2 separate regions of the Homo sapiens genome follow, and region 2 is linked to region 1. A link means that fine-mapping ties the variant in region 1 to the expression of a gene that starts in the linked region. Tissue or cell type: testis. Region 1 holds a variant in brackets; the other region holds the start of a gene. All regions are shown on one strand. Distances are from middle to middle.

Evidence for each region. PIP is the estimated chance that this variant, and not a neighbour inherited with it, causes the effect.
Region 2: NRG1-IT1 starts here. The variant in region 1 is fine-mapped to the expression of NRG1-IT1 in testis (GTEx, PIP above 0.99).

What each region holds. Positions count from the first base shown.
Region 1 is chr8:32,135,644-32,143,834 of GRCh38, reverse strand. NRG1-IT1 (NRG1 intronic transcript 1) reads right to left here. Exons shown (of 3, transcript NR_104158.1): 3 at 4,358-4,620. It also overlaps a transcript of NRG1 not described here. Among named protein-coding and RNA genes, the nearest start is that of NRG1-IT1, 110 kb to the right of the region's middle. The variant T/C (reference allele first, on the strand shown) is at 4,596.
Region 2 is chr8:32,021,887-32,030,077 of GRCh38, reverse strand. It overlaps NRG1-IT1 (NRG1 intronic transcript 1), which reads right to left and starts at 4,342. Exons shown (of 3, transcript NR_104158.1): 1 at 4,314-4,342; 2 at 593-699. It also overlaps a transcript of NRG1 not described here.

The sequences.
Region 1 (8,191 bases):
ATGTACATATTTTCTGGTAGCACACACATGCCTATGGGCATGAGTGGGTGTGTGTATTTATTTTCAATGGGCATAAACTGTTGACTTTGAAAGAAGAGAAGGTATCTGAAGTGTTGGGTGGAATACTTGTGGAGTGTAAACTTTAGGTAGGCACCAGGCTCAAGTCCTTGCCCTCACTGCTTCTCACATTTCATCACCCTGTTCTTATGTTGATCCCAGAGAAGTTGCCTGAGAAACGTGCTTGTCCAGCATTTGATGAAGAACATAGTTTATGTCACTGTAATTTATTTCAACTCAATGGGGCACTGAGAGCTGGATACATGTTCAGCTTGGTAGAAACATTGGGGAAGGGCAGTAAACCAACCAAATAAGGTCTCTGCCTCCATGGAGCTCATGGTCTGGGGAAGAACAGACATTTTTTGTACAACTTTTATTATTCTTGCTGTTAGTGCAAGATATTTATGTATAGAATCATCCAGTATCAGGAGATTTCTGGTTCTAATTGACTTTGATTTTTTCATACATTCTATATTATATTATCAGTGAAACATCCAGGAATATTAGCACATGTGAATTATTTCTTCCCCCCCCAAAAAAAAAGCCTTAACACCTTGTACTCTAGACACAGGCCATCTGCTCTGTGATCTGCCCAATCAAGGGCAGTAGCAGGCAAGTCACATGGATCCCACTGTCCCCAAGCTGACAGAGGCTGCAGCTTAGAGGCCTGGTGGACCAACAGTTGACTTCAGCTGCTGACTGACATCTGAAATTCTGCACATCACATAATGGGAAGAAACCTCCGTCTGGAGGCTTTAATGATATGACAAAAGAAGTAACAGGACTTTGGTTTGCCTCACGTTTACCACACTAAGACCTTTCTTAAAGTGTACATACAACTTTGTTTTCTGAAGACGAAGGCAGACATAAGTATACCTTTAGAAACCTAATCCATATTCTAACACGTATTCTTTTCACTGGACTCTATCTTTAAAAAAATACATGCCTGACATAATTCTGTATTTGTACCTATGTATTAGCACTATTTTTAAAACATTTATTTCTTTGTCAGAGACCAAATTCTCACAATGTCATTGGTCTAATGAATCATTTGTAAGTTCAAGGGAACAAATCCCAAAGCTGGATTTTCCTTTTGCTCTGTGCTTCAATCCTGTGTATAAGAAAAAAGAATTGTTGAGTGGTTCTCAATAGCATTTGAGCTTCTGGCCCCTTCCAATTTGCTAGGCAGATTTTCTCCATACCAGTAGCTGGCATACCTCAGCTAGAAAACACAATTTCTCCTGACTAAACAATATGTTTAGAAACCTAATGCTTGTAGATTTGGCCTATTGGTGGTCTTCAAAGTTTGATTACACATGAAAGAAGGAATAATCACGCCGAATATTGATTTTCCAAAGCAATGCTCTGTCATGCTCTTCAGGGAGATCATATAGCATAGGAAGTCTAAAAATCAGCATAGCAAAGTTATTAACACTCACACTAACAAGCACAGTCAACTATCTCTGCAATCTGTGACTGGAAATAGTGAAAAAGCAGGATTATGTATACACACATACAAATTACTTTCACCATCCTCAGGCAAGGGTCATTTGGACTTTCAACATGCTGAGATGAGCTGACTGAAGAGACCCACCAGATACCCATCCCTCTATCAGTTCAAAAAATGTCCAGGGTCAGGCAGAATGAGACTCCTGGGGTTTTAGGGTAGGCAAGCTATAAGCGTCTTTACATTAAATTTTGTTTTCATGCAGTGCAAATAGACACTAATAGCTGGTTCGAGCCCTTGCCCAGGAAACTGATGGAGAAGAACAGCCACTTTCAGGGATAGCAACAGAGTCCAAAGGCTTCCCACGGAGCTGAAGATTACTAGCAAAACTCCTGCAGTGGGAACTTTCCTGAACAGCTTTACAGCATCAGGAAAATTAGGCATGGAAAGCAAGCAGACATCCTTTATCTTCAAACTGGAAAAGCAATGAGTTCTATTAGTCGGAGTTATAAAAGTTTCTTATTGTTTATTGTGCAGTACCCCTTGAGCTGAGCAAGATTTTGGCACAAGTCTCTGTGGAACGAATGTGTATGCTGATCTTTAGCCAGAAGAGTTGTCAATTTTTCAAATGTTATTCAGATATTAGTGAAAAGTTGTGAATATTTTGGATGCATGGAGAGATATCTCTCCATGCATCATTCATATATATATATATATATATATATATATATATATATACCCACACACATAGGATATGTATATATACATATATAAAGTATATATATACACACACACACACACACACACACTTAACTATCTCACATCTGACAAATGCCACATTTGTAGACATCAAAAAGGGATGCAAAATGTTTCCCTGGCCAAAATTTCATTTCAGAAACGAAAGACGAGAAACATGGCTTATGTCTCTATAAGGTATTAGCAGTTCTTTATTAGGAATACTAACTAACCTACTAATATTTCTCTAGTGAATTCTATACTGCCAAAGAGTTAGTGGCAAATCTGCATTGAGCCCAAATTCCTCTGTTATATACAATGACTACTTTATCGCCCCTTAGCAAGCTTGTTGCTGCCCTGGTACCACATTCCTTGGTCATGTCCTGAAACAGCCCACTGACCTCAAATCCCTCTTTTATTCATTTACCAGACAATCCACTACTACATATTTTTTATTCCTATATGAAGTTTCCTAAGAATTAGATGAGAAGGAAAATACACATTTCCTGTTTTGAGAGAGTTTAGGATACTAATAAGATTTCTCATAAGTACCAAATACCAGAATAAAATAATTGACAGAGAAAAAGAGAGAGACAGAAACAGAGAGAGACACAGAGACAGAGAGAGAGAGAGTGAGCGAGAGAGAGAGAGAGAGAAGGTGCATAAACTTAAGGGCTCAAAGGTCAACAGTACAAATCAGAATGTAAGTTCTAACAAAGTGCAGAGAAAGGATAAGAGGAAATGAAATGCTCTGGAGAAGTCAATGGAGGTGGAGGTTGTCACCCTGAGTTGTGACTTAAAGTACTTGATTAGTTAGAAAAGAAGAGAGAAACCAGGTACATGGGTGGCTCATGTCTGTAATCCCTGCACTTTTGGAGGCTGAAGTGGGAAGATCACTTGAGCCCAGGAGTTCAAGACCAGCTTGGGCAGCATAGCAAGACCCAGTCTCTACAAAAAAATGAAGAAATTAGCCAGATGTGGTGGCACATGCCTGTAGTCCCAGCTACTCAGTAGGCTGAGGAAGGATGATCACTTGACCCAGGAGCTTGAGACTGCATTGAGTTGTCATTATGCCACTGCACTCCAGGATGGGCAACAGAGTGAGGTCTTTTCTCAGAAAAAAAAAAAAGAAAGAAAGAAGAAAAGCATTTCAGCAGGTGGGGAAGACAAGAGCAACAAAGAGAAACCAAGAATGACAGGAAGACAGGAAGACTATCTACCTGACTGAAAGGGAGAATTTATATTATCGAGCAGAAAAACTAAGGTTGGATAGGCAGGAAGGATTCAAATTGTCATAGGTTTTGAGTATCAGTTTAGTTTCTGCATTAAAAAAAAATGATACACCACTGCTTAATGACATTGCAGACATTAAAGAGATGTGCAAGTATGGCTGACAGAAATGCATCATCATGAAGGACTGCCCTGACCTTCAGCATTGTGGCTACAAACTCCAGCACCGTGGTATTCAAGCAATTCCTTTCTAGAGTGAGGGACTAGACATAAATGGCCATAGCTGCTGGGTCCCTAAGGCACCTCTCATCAGTTAGGTCAATGTGCCAGGCAGGGGAAGAAGCCTTACTATTCCACTGCATCTGTGGCCTTGAAACTCATAGCTCCTGAATCCTCAAGTCTCTGAGGCAATGCATTCCAGCTACAGATAAATACCTTAAGCAGTCACCTCAGGCAGGGCTAATTAGGAACCTCTTTCAGAAGCTACTTTGTATCCCCAAAGTCAGCTACATGGGTCTTATTGCCAACAATTTATCATGCATTGTCTACATGGTATAAACATGCATTCTCAACTTGCTATTTATGAATCTTACCTTTTTATTTTATTTCATTGATTTTGGAGTACAGGTTGTTTTCGGTTACGTGGGTAAGTCCTTTAGTGGTGGCTTCTGAGACTTTAGTGCATCCATCACCCAAGCATTGAATCTTACCCTTTCAAAGCTAAAGGTACACGTGTGTATACTTCTTAAAAAGCAAATGCACATGTTAATATGCCTGCTATAAGTGGCCTCTACATTTTAAATGCATGCCTCAAATATTTCTATTATTTGTCTATATGTAACAGTGATATTTCTTTTCAACACATATTACTTTTTCAGAGATCAAAGGTTCCTAATATCTCATTTTATTTTATGGTAATTTATGACTGGTCAAGTAAAACCAGGCTCCTTTTCAACTTTTGTTTCATGACTGTGCAAGGAGAAGGGATGGCTAGGCGGTTCTCGCTCCCATTCCATTCTTTGTCAGTTACCAGGTCCTTAAGCAGATCTTCTCCCCCAGGTGTTTGCCTTCTGAAGGGGAGAAATGGCGGTCAAAGGACTTTCCTCAAAGAGACAGTTGCACTTGA[T/C]CTTGAATAAAGACTGAAATTTCATCTGGCAAAAAAAGGACATAGAAGAAGAAAGATTTCATACCAAGGCACTGAATTAGAGGACAAGGCTGTGATCTAGAAAACTTGACTCTGCATGTATCTGGGTACTCAGTCAAAGGCGCATGGAAGAAGATATGGTCAGAATGGTTGCTTGAGGTCAAAATATTAAGGATTATTTTATGCCATGCTAAAAACAAACAATTTAGTCATTCATTCACTCACTGTTGATTGACTGATTGATTGACTGATTGATTTCTCTTTTGAAAAAGTGCCTGCCTGAGGTTTAAGGGAGGAAATCAAAAAGCCAAAATTAGGTCTGATCATATTGCATTAAAAATTGCTGTGAGCTTGCTGGGCATGGTGGCTCATGCCTATAATCCTAGGGAGGCCGAGGTGGGTGGATCACTTGAGGTCAGGAGTTCAAAAACATTGAAAACAGCCTGGCCAATATGGTGAAACCCTGTTTCTACTAAAAAAAATACAAGAAAGTTAGCTGCGCTTGGTGGTGGGCGCCTATAAACTCAGCTACTTGGGAGGCTGAGGCAGAATAATTGCTTGAACCTGGGAAGCTGAGGTTGCAGTGAGCCAAGACTGCACCACTGCGCACTCCAGTCTGGGCGACAGAGTGAGACCCTGTCTCAAAAAAAAAGAAATCGCTGTGAGCCTCCTGCCAGTCACAGCCTAGGAGCTTGCGTGTGCTCTGAGCCAGCAGAATTGTGCATACCAATGTGTCCTGGTTACCATTTCCAGCTCTAAGAAGGGGGAATGCTGTCTTCTGATTGGCAGCATGTCTTTGACATGAAATCCTAAAACTTGTGTTTTGGGAGAAAAATGCTTTGTTTGTATTCCCCTGCTTGAAGGACCCCATGCTGAGCTTTAGATGTTTGCCTTCCTTGGGTGTTGGGCTTAAATGCAGATCCTCATAGAGAGCACAGACATTCTGTCCGCAGTGAAACAATGATATATTCTATTTATTGCACTGGTACATCGCCCCTGATGTTTAAATCCACTCACTATTGTCCTCACTGACGCTGTGTAGCTGCTGTTAGTGTTTGCCAAATCAGCAGATGTGATTGCTAAATATGTAGAGATGAGATGCAAGGAACAGGCAGTAAGAGGGCTTTAAAGGGGTTCTCTACTCTTCCTCTCTTCTCCAACAAGGACACCTAACATTCTTCCACCATATGAAAATCCTCTATTGTCTACTCCAAGACGCTTCAACATCAAAAGGATCCCAGCAGACACAGGATATATTTTAGGTGACTTGCAAATTTAAGAAAACTTAAATCTTAATACAATCTTAATACAAAGCTGCTTTTGGCAGAAGAACTACATATACAATATACACTTAGGAAAGAGTGAGAGAGGATTCACCCAGAATTGAATCAATACTGACTGGCCTGCAGCAGCGCATAGACTCTCAGAAGGGAGGAAAAACAATTTCCTGAAACCCAAATAGAGAGAAATCAACCACATCTCGAGGGATGAGGATGGCTGGCTGTGTGCATCAGGGGTTATCAAGGAAAGCGGAGGTGGAGAAGAGGAGGTATAAACCTAGAACCAGAGACTGGATTTGCACATGGCTCTCCTTTTATGTACCCAACTGTCTATAGAAGAAGCAGATCGTCAAATACTTGGAATCTCACGACACTTGACATATGCATGCAATTGTGCACACACAGAGAGAAAATATCATCTACATTAAATTGCTTTATAGAAAAATATATACTTAACTGCTCCAGATGGCTAATGTCTTTTATTTTATTTTTTTTCTTTTGAGATGGGGTCTCACTCTGTCTCCCAGGCTAGAGTACAGTGGTGCAATCTCGGCTCATTGCAACCTTGGCCTCTCGGGTTCAAGCAATTCTCCTGCCTCAACCTCCCAAGTAGCTAGGACTACAGGCATGCACCACCAGGCCTAATTTTTGTATTTTTAGTAGAGACAGGGTTTCGCCATGTTGGCCAGGCTGGTCTTGAACTCGTGACCTCAAATGATCCACCCGCCTCGGCCTCCCAAAGTGCTGGGACTACAGGCATGAGCCACCATGCCAGGCCATAATGTCTTTATATTATACAAGAAGACACTGGTGACTCAGCGGTAAAGGAGCTTCCTACAATTAAATTAAAAATTCATCATAGAAATCATGTTTTAAAAAAAACCCCCATGTTTATTGATTCACAATCGAATAAACCAGATATAGAGTATATGCCTCTGTAAAATGTAATTACCTCCTTATATACCCTGAAAGTATATAATGTATTCAGAACTAGTTTCATTAATTAAGTGTTGTTGATCGTCTGTGCTTAGCCAAGTACTATTAATATTAAGGTGTTATATAAGGCCCAATTCTTTAATATGAATTATGACATCTAAGCATAAGAATATAGACTTTGGTTGTGACAAATGATTGAGGAAAGTATTCATCATTTTAGAACCTCTTAGAAATATCTAAATATGCGGGCTTACCTATCGGCACTTTACCCCACAACGTTCAAACACTGGTCTTCCTGGATTTGCACACTCCATTAGTGGGGTGCCATTGTCAGTGAAGAAAGAAGACATATGATCATGTGTTAAGGCATTCTTATTAAATATCTAAGGCATAAACCCATCTACCTGTACCATGCTTGCATCAAACCAACTGAATATCGGTACAGAAAGATATGCCACCACAACAACAGAGCTCAAGTAGACCATCACAATGGCCTACTATCTGTGAAGAGTAGTGAAGGATCTGAGATTTTAGCCTATCCTGTTTTCAAAGTTCACCTGCCACTGTTTCATGGATGCTAGCAGGGGACATGAGACTTTGGGTCAGAGACCACGGACTTTATGACAATAGCAGTGGTTGAAGTGTTTGCATTTGTGTAGGTTCTCTGGGCCCCACTCCTCACAGGGTGATATGAAAAGGGCCAGGTGACAACAGTACCTGCAAGAGGTTTGTATTATAGGAGAGGAACCATGCGCTTAAGGAATCTGAATATTTTATAATGGGCAGTAAGCTCTGTTGATCTTTGCCTCAGTGGGAGGCATTATCTTCATTATCCTGAACAGCAACTGAACCTGCCTTTGCTCTGGAACAGGCCACTGTATCTTCCAACTCCTGAACCAAGAGAGTTAGTGACTCTGATCGTAAGATGAGCAAAAATGCAAAGGGCACCTAGAGAATGATCTCCCTACACCACCCTCATCTGCACTGTGTTTGATTCCTCACCTTCCTAAATGACTGTCAACCTTCTCTTTTTCAAAACATCTCAACAATCACTCCCGCATGGCTGTTTGGTTTTCTTCTACTTTGCTTTTGATCCTTTAGAGTTTCTTTTGATTTCTTTTTTATGCTCACCTGTAAATGTAAGAGTACCCCTGGGCTCTGTCCTTCTCTTTCATATCTATAAGTACTATTTAGGTGATTTCATATAGACCCTTAGCTCTAAATACTAGCTGTGTGTTACAGGCTCACAAAATTGCATCCATGTCCTAATTTCTCCCATGAACCAAAAACTTGTCCAACAAATTGCCCACTTGAAATTTCTTCTCAGATACTCAGAAGATATCTCAAAAAAATGTAAACATG
Region 2 (8,191 bases), 110 kb after region 1:
TGATTGTGAAACCTATTAAATTATTGTAAAAATATTAAGGACTTTCAATATAAATAAGTAGGCAAATAGTTTAATAGTTATAATGAATATAAAGAGAATGTTTTATATAACTTTAAAAAGAAAAATATTTAGAGTCCAGAGATGTTCATTAAATTTTAAAATGATAATACAAAGCTGAATACCAGATATTAGATTATATCAGAATTTTAAAATTTGTGGCTTTTTTTTTTACAAACCAGCATTCATAATTTTAAACATAATTATTATTGAGACAAATTCAATTGTTAAGTATTTAATACGATTCAGGTCATGAGGCTTTCAAAATGTTTCTGCTTAGTAATTCTTCACATAGGTAATGTTAAATCGTATCAGATGTGGGCTTTAGAAACCTCGATATGAGTCCTAAGTAACAAAGTAAAACCTAACTTAGTACTTAAACAATTTGAAAGCTTAAATTAGGAATTTGCCTTTGTAACAAATAGTAAAGTATCAGCCAATCACAGCAGCCTAGCTTCAGTCAATCAACTGTTCAAACCATGTTCAAACAAGGCAAAGGCTGAGCTGTAACCAATCAGCTATCTCTGAATCTCACCTCCAATTTCTGCACCTCATTTCCATTTTCTGTCCATAAAACATTTCGCACCACATTGCAGCCTGGGAGCTCCTCAGAACTGTTTTGGTTCTAATGGCTGCCCGATTCTGGAATTGCAAGTAAAAGCCAATTGAGATCTTTAAATGAAATGTGTTGAAATTTTGTCTTTTTATAATAAGAATATATTAACAATGGCAGAATGTTAACTTTGCAACTCAAAATTTCATTAGTAGGAAAAACCACAAAATTGTGCATAACATTTAAATCATATTTGATCCCCACATAATCCAGAATATGAGAAATGCAAAGAAAAATGTGTTAGAGAAAAATGAGGTACGCAAATAATACTTTGTTTTCTTTAATCAAATTTGAAAGCAACAGACTTTGATAGAATGACTTAGAAGACACTTTCCTAAAGTGTGTTAATGAAGGGGAAGGTTTTAACAAAAACCTTGTTAAAATGACTACCCATAGAGATGAATGCCACTTTCAGGAAGTAATGATATTCTTAAATCAGTATACACAAATTATGAATCCTGCTACAAAATTATTTCTGTTCCAGTAAAAAATATTTACTAAAAAACTTTTTCATCACTCATTTCACTATGAATAGGAAGGTTAGTGATGTTATTAAATGTATCAATTGAAAGTGAGTATCTATTTAATACTGCAAATATCTCATGTTCCCCTTTCCACTGCAGGAAGAATCTAGCAATTTATAATCTTGAAAAAATATTCTTCTTGCAGTTTTTGAATGTCTAACTTTTGAAAGTTAGTGAATGAAATCATTAATTAAAATCTATAGTTATTAATTTTAGCTATTATTCCAAAACTTCAACTTCACCAACCCAATATTTATTTTAGCAAGACATTTAACATTCAGTTATTCAGTACACTACTATAAGATGACCTGAATGTTAATTCCAAATGAAATAAAATAATGCAAAACCCTGAAATGGTCTTGGAAAAATACATAGGCAAAGCTCTTATTATACAGATGAGGAAACTAAGTCCAAAATCAAATACTAAATGGCTGAGCTGATGCCATCATTCAGTTCTTTAATATTTCTGTCCTGCCATTTTAACATTAGGTCACATTCATCCTTACAATCAGAAAATTATTTGAAAAATTCTTATATTTTTCCATTGAACCATAAACCATACATATCAGAAATACCAGTTTAATTCTGAGATGCACAGTCCTAGTCCCCTAAAGTTTGGTCATTAGAAGAAAGAAACCACATTCAGGAATAGTGAGGCCAAAAAAACGGTATGGACACAAGTCCTTTGCGCAATTTTCTTTCCCTAACCATGAGAGCCATGTTCTTAAAGATTTGGGTGAAAATTAATGAATTAGTAATATAAAAATAGTAGTAAAGAAACTGATTATATTTTTAAAATGTTAGACAAACTATAAACTCTAGTTGATTAAGAACCACAATTTAGAAGTCACTGCTCCCTAAAAGTCATGGCAATGAAATAGAGGGAAAAATAAATGAAACTTTACCCAAGCAAGAAAAATGTCCTTTGTTTTTTAAGCCACTGTAATTTGTAGCTTTTCTGTTAGTTTAGTTTAGCTGCTCCTACCCGGAATGAAATAGTGGCTTAAGTCTCTTTGAAGAGAGTGAAGATTCAAGAATACACAGCAAATTTGAGAAATTATTCATTTATAGTATTTCCCAGGGGATTGGACAAAAACCCCTCTCCCATTGCACAGAAAAAATATCTTAGGAGACAGAGAAAAGGCTGCAGAGTATCTAAGACTAGATCCCTGCCTTCATCACCCAGTATTCCCATAGATTACAGACAAACAGATAATCCATGAAAGTAAATTCAGTTCTCAGACTGTATATTAAGTAAAGAAAACAAACAGTATGGTGAGAAGAGAGTCAAGAGGCCACCTACAATATATCCCACCTAACTTGGCATCTTAGGGACACACAAGCATGAGCAAAAAGAAAAGAAAACGCTATGGCAACTATAAAATCCTCCTAGATTAGGGAGGGAGGGAGGGAGGGAAGGAAGGAAGGAAGGAAGGAAGGAAGGAAGGAAGGAAGGAAGGAAGGAAGGAGGGAAGGAAGGAAATTTATAAAAAACATACAGATTTAGCAAATTAAAATATAAAAATAGAGACACCCAGCTCAATTTGAAATTCATATAAGCAACAAATAAATTTTAGCATATACATGTCCTAAATATTCCATGAGACATCTTTATACTAAAAAGAAATATTCATTGTTTGGCAAAATTATCACAAGAAACATAAAAATACTACTCAACCCTACTTGAAACTACCCTACTCACAAACTCATGAACCAACCTACTCAAAACTACTAATTCTAATATAATGTAATATAATAGAGGAATGTAAGTTCACTAAAACAAAATTCAAAGACAAAATAATAGAATAACAGAATTAGATGATAAAGGAGAGTACCGATATAAGGGGGAAAGAACTCAAAACAATAGCCTTATGAAACTAATACATAAATTAGAAAAACAATGGATGCAATTGAAAATTAAGTTACTGATACAGAGAAATGGGGATTAAGATAATTATAGTGAAGGAAGATGAACAGATAAGGAGATAAAAGCAATTAGAGAAAAGTGAATACTTTAAACAAAAAAATCCAACACAATGTTAACAGATATTCCTGAAGTAGAGAATTTAACAAATGAAAATAAATATTTATTCTAAGATCTAATCCAAGAAATTTCCTGAAAAAAAGCTAAGTAAATCTTTAGGTTGAAGGAGCACTCTTTCTAGAAAATGTGGTACAAAACAAACCCTCAATTTCTAGACCTAACTAAGTTAAGCTATTATGTGTTAAGGGTAACTTATTTTTAGGCATCTTGGGACTAAAAAGCCAATCGCCTATACGGTAGAATAACATTAATTTTATTTCAGATTTGTTTTCAGTAAAGTTGACTGCAAGAATAAAATGGAAAATTCTCCACAAATTCAAGGAAAGAAAATGTGAAGGGAGAGTATTATATGCGCCCAAGGCATGATGAAAGTAAAAAAGTAACAAGTAAATATTGTCAAGTAGGAAAATAATTCATAGAAAAAGACCCATGTAAGCCCTTCTTGGGGGAAAAAATAAGCAAAAAACTACTTTACCACAAAATCCAGCCAAAGAGATGAATTCAGCTAAAAATTCAAGAATGGAAAGTAGCCCAAAGACTGAAGAGTTGTGAGCACTGAATCCATTTGATTTTATTACCGGTAGTAGTCAACTGGGAAATGTGGTTACCATAGAGATTGCACAGGCGCCTGTAGTCCCGGCTACTCCGGGGTCTGAGGCAGGAGAATGGCGTGAATCTGGTAGGCGGAGCTTGCAGTGAGTCGAGATCCTGCCGCTGCACTCCAGCCTGGGCGACAGAGCGAGACTCCGTCTCAAAAAAAAAAAAAGAAAAAAAGATTGTATATGCTCTAAACTTAGTAAATGTAAACCTAACTGATAAAACTAATAGAAAGTGAAGCAGGGAAAGAGGACCTGAGACCTGTGGCAATATCTTCACTTTTTTTTTTTTTTTTTTTAGACGGAGTCTCGCTCTCTCGGCCAGGCCGTAATGCAGCGGCGGGATCTCGGCTCACTGCAAGCTCCGCCTCCCGGGTTCACGCCATTCTCCTGCCTCAGCCCCGAGTAGCTGGGACTACAGGCGCCCGCCACCAGGCCCGGCTAATTTTTTGTATTTTTTACTAGAGACGGGATTTCACCTTGTTAGCCAGGATGGTCTCGATCTCCTGACCTCGTGATCCGCCCGCCTCGGCCTCCCAGAGTGCGGGGATTACAGGCGTGAGCCACTGTGCCTCCACTTTTATGAGAGGGAGTCAATTGAGCTTGATAGGTTAAAATAAAAAAAAAAAAAAAAATCGACTTCCATGTTTTTCAAGTTAACTTTGGATCTTTTAGAAAAAGATACGTCTTAAGGTGAAAATAAAACATTTATTTGAGGTCAATAGTTCCTCTAAAAGCAAAATTTCAGTTTTAACCTTCTGTTAAATTAAAATATCAATTATACTATGATCTTACTGTCTGCCTACATCGATGCATGTCTATATATCCATCTATCCATCAGTTCATCCATCTTGCCATTATTTGATCCAGAAATGTACAAAGAAATATATCATAGAATTTTATGTATCTAATGGTAATTGTGAGTCTTTCTCTGTGGTTTGAGACTTTTTTTTTCTTACTAGTTTGATGCATTGTTTTAATTGTTTTTAGCAAAACAACATAATGAGTTTTGCAAAAGAAAAAATGTAAGCAAGCAAAAATGACCAGATGGTAAGTCAGATTAATTCTGAAAAATAGGAATGTAGATTAATTACATTTTAACCTACATATTTCAGCATTTTTAATATTTACAAAGTAAGATGCTCCCTTGATCTCACCAGAGAAATATAAAATGAAAAGTGACAGATCTGTCTCCTCCAACATCCCATTCCCATTCTTCAGAAGTAACCACTGTTAATTGTGTACTCTTCCTTCTAGAAATTTTATTTGTATGTATTAATATATACGTAGACATAGATACAGATATATCTTTTTTATATAATCAGGATCAAACAATTCTCAAATTCTTTCTAAACAGGTTAAAAGACAGTATATAAACTGAATTAATTTGCTTACTGTTCTTTATTTTCTCTATACTTTTGGGATCATTTTCACTCACAGGTTCAATGAAATGGTGGAAAGTTCCTTTTGATCTGTAGGAGATAATACATAATTAAAGAATATTTTACTTCTTATTCTTTTGTGACTGGCTTTCCATTCAGATTTTCAGTTCTTTCTTGATTTCATGTTTCTGAATTTTTGATTCCAGCTTTCTGGCTCCCGCAGGAGTCTCAGAGATGCCAATTTACTATGGTGCTTGGTAAAGATGAAAAATCAAGCTTGAGGTAATTTTTATTTAATAAATCTCCATTGGCTCCAAAGGCTATTTCCCAGCCATCTTCCAAAATATACATAGTGTTATGTAATATTAGTTCCACTCACGATAACTCCATGCCAGAGCACATTAGAACACAGCCAAACACTGTAGCCTTGCTTCCTTCCTCTGCCCTTCCGCTCCCCTTTGCATGCTACGTGGTTTCCCACTCTGTCCACCACTCAAAACTTAGAACTGTAGTTCCAAGGCTTGGGCTCATTTTCATCTGTTTTCTTGAACTCAAAGGCTCACTTTGCAACTTTCCACTCACTTCCCTTTAATACAGCAGTGATGCTCTTACAGTTTTGCAGAGGAACAAAGTATAAGGCTCTAACTCTCCCGATTCAAGACATGTATGTAATGGAAGTTTTCAACTGGAATCAAATTACTGTATTAGGCAGGATCACAGAATGTAACAGGAACTGCCTGAGAAACTGCTTGGAAACTACAGTTTAGGCAGGGCAATGAAGCCCAGGATTGCTCCCAAAAAGGACCTGAAAGACCCATTGATAAGAGGCAGCAGCCAGTGTAACCTCTTGGCCGCATAATGTTAAGTGCTCTCTTCTGCCTCCTGCTAGGAGTTACTTTTCTATGTTTGGGATCCAAACTAACCCAGCGGTATTCCAATGCAAGCAGGGAAACAGGTGAATGTCAAATCAGTGCTGGCTGCAAGGTCACTCTCTCACAGCTCATGTTCTTTTAGGGAGAGTTACTGCAAATCTGCAGCTACGCTCTTCTGCCAGTCCCTATTTGATCGTAATTAAATGAAGCTTGAGAATCCTGCCTCAAGCCTTTTCTTTCTTCCAGAGAAGGCTGAGTGTTGGTTTCTCCACTGCCAGGCATTCTCTCTCCTGGTGTTTTTGAAATCTCAGGACCAATGGGCGTCTGTCTGGGACAAGGCACCACTTCCCTCTCCTTAACCTTTCCCCTCACAATCTGGAAGGACTGGAGCTGCTTCTGATTTTCAGTCCCAGCAGCTGGCCACCAGTGGGTTCACCTCAGCCATTAAAATGCCAAGTTGAGTTTCTGCAGAAAACCTGGTGACGCTTTGGCCTGCAGCTGCAAGTGGAACAGATGAACTGCTAGCCCAATGCAGAGTCGTTCATCATACTTACTTGCAGCTGTTCCCAAGTTCATTCACTTCCTTTCCTGCACATTCCAGGATTTTTCTTTGCGGCACTATAAATCAAGTTTCATTCCACTTTTGTGGAATTTTCACTTTTTGTATTTTAAAGGAAAACTTCGAAACTCAATGTCTTATAACATCCTTCTACTCTTGGCCATTTCTTGAACTGCGTTTCCAGGAAATCAGAACAGTGTGATTCAGAAGGAATTTGAAGGGAAATGTAAGGTAATGTGTGTAAAATTACATTACATAACTAAAATCAGTTAAATGTTCCAAATGCAAGCTCTAATGATTCCCTGAGATGGGGTGCAGGTAAATATCCAAATCACTTGATATACATGATTATGAATTAATTTCCAACACTGAATATATGCACATAAATATGTTGCATATGCATCCGTCTCAGTAGAGTAAAAAATCAGATGATTTATTTTATGGTACAAATATATGATAATCCAAAAGGTTGTGCTGAAACAAATTTTGAAATCTGTGCTCCCGTGCACATTAAATGGTGAGTCTGTTAAATCTCCTTATTGTTGAGTTATAGAGATAATAGCATTTAGCACAGACTCTGTGGTTCAATGATTAAGTGAATTAAAACAAAATGTTCAAATATTGAGGTATTGTGGACTCATTCATTTCATACATGAAATGATTGTACCAGGTACAGTGAAAAAAATATATACAATTATGAGGTCTTGAGCTACAATTATTTTTTATCTAAGGACTAACATTAAACAGGTCCAGTTGATTGTATACGTCATATAAAATGGAGTTGTCAATTAATGTGTCAATAAAATTTCAGATAAACAATGTCCTATTTACTCTGAATAGTTCCCTCTCCCTTGCTGTTAGTAGATTGCATTAGATTTTAGAATAAGTTGCATGTCTTGTAATTTGAATATACTCTAGACCACTTAATAGAGCTCTCTGATACTAGATTTACCTTTAAGTATCAAAATTTCAGCATTACAGGTCTATTTGCATGTGTGGCTCATGTAAAATAAATCATCTGATTTTTTAAGCTTGGCATAGAGGAAGAAATAAAGGCTCTGGTAACATGACTGACAGACTCACTGGAAGCAGTCCCATCTATGTATTAGGCACATTGATTAATAAATACTTTCAAGTGAATTAAATGAAGAGTTAGAAGATTCAGAGAACGCTCTGACTTAAGCAATAAGTCAAGCAAAAAACTCTCTCTTTACCTAATGTCTACCTCTGAAATTCACAGGGACAATTTTACCCTTTGCATAGAGGACTTAAAGCCCATAAATAACAGTCGTGAGATTAAATGCCCTTTAGTATATATGACTAAGAATTTATAAAGGTATAGTTTAAGACCTGATATAACAACAACAACAACAACAAAATACCTGGAAAGTTTCACTTATAAAAGTGCTCAGACCCAAATCTAGAACAATAAATAGAAAAACACCAACCACTTCTGCCTCTGAGAGCCTCCAAATTGCCATTGATAACTATGGATATCTGGCAACTCAGTTAATTTACAGGTAAGAAAAAAAGCAAAAGAGAAG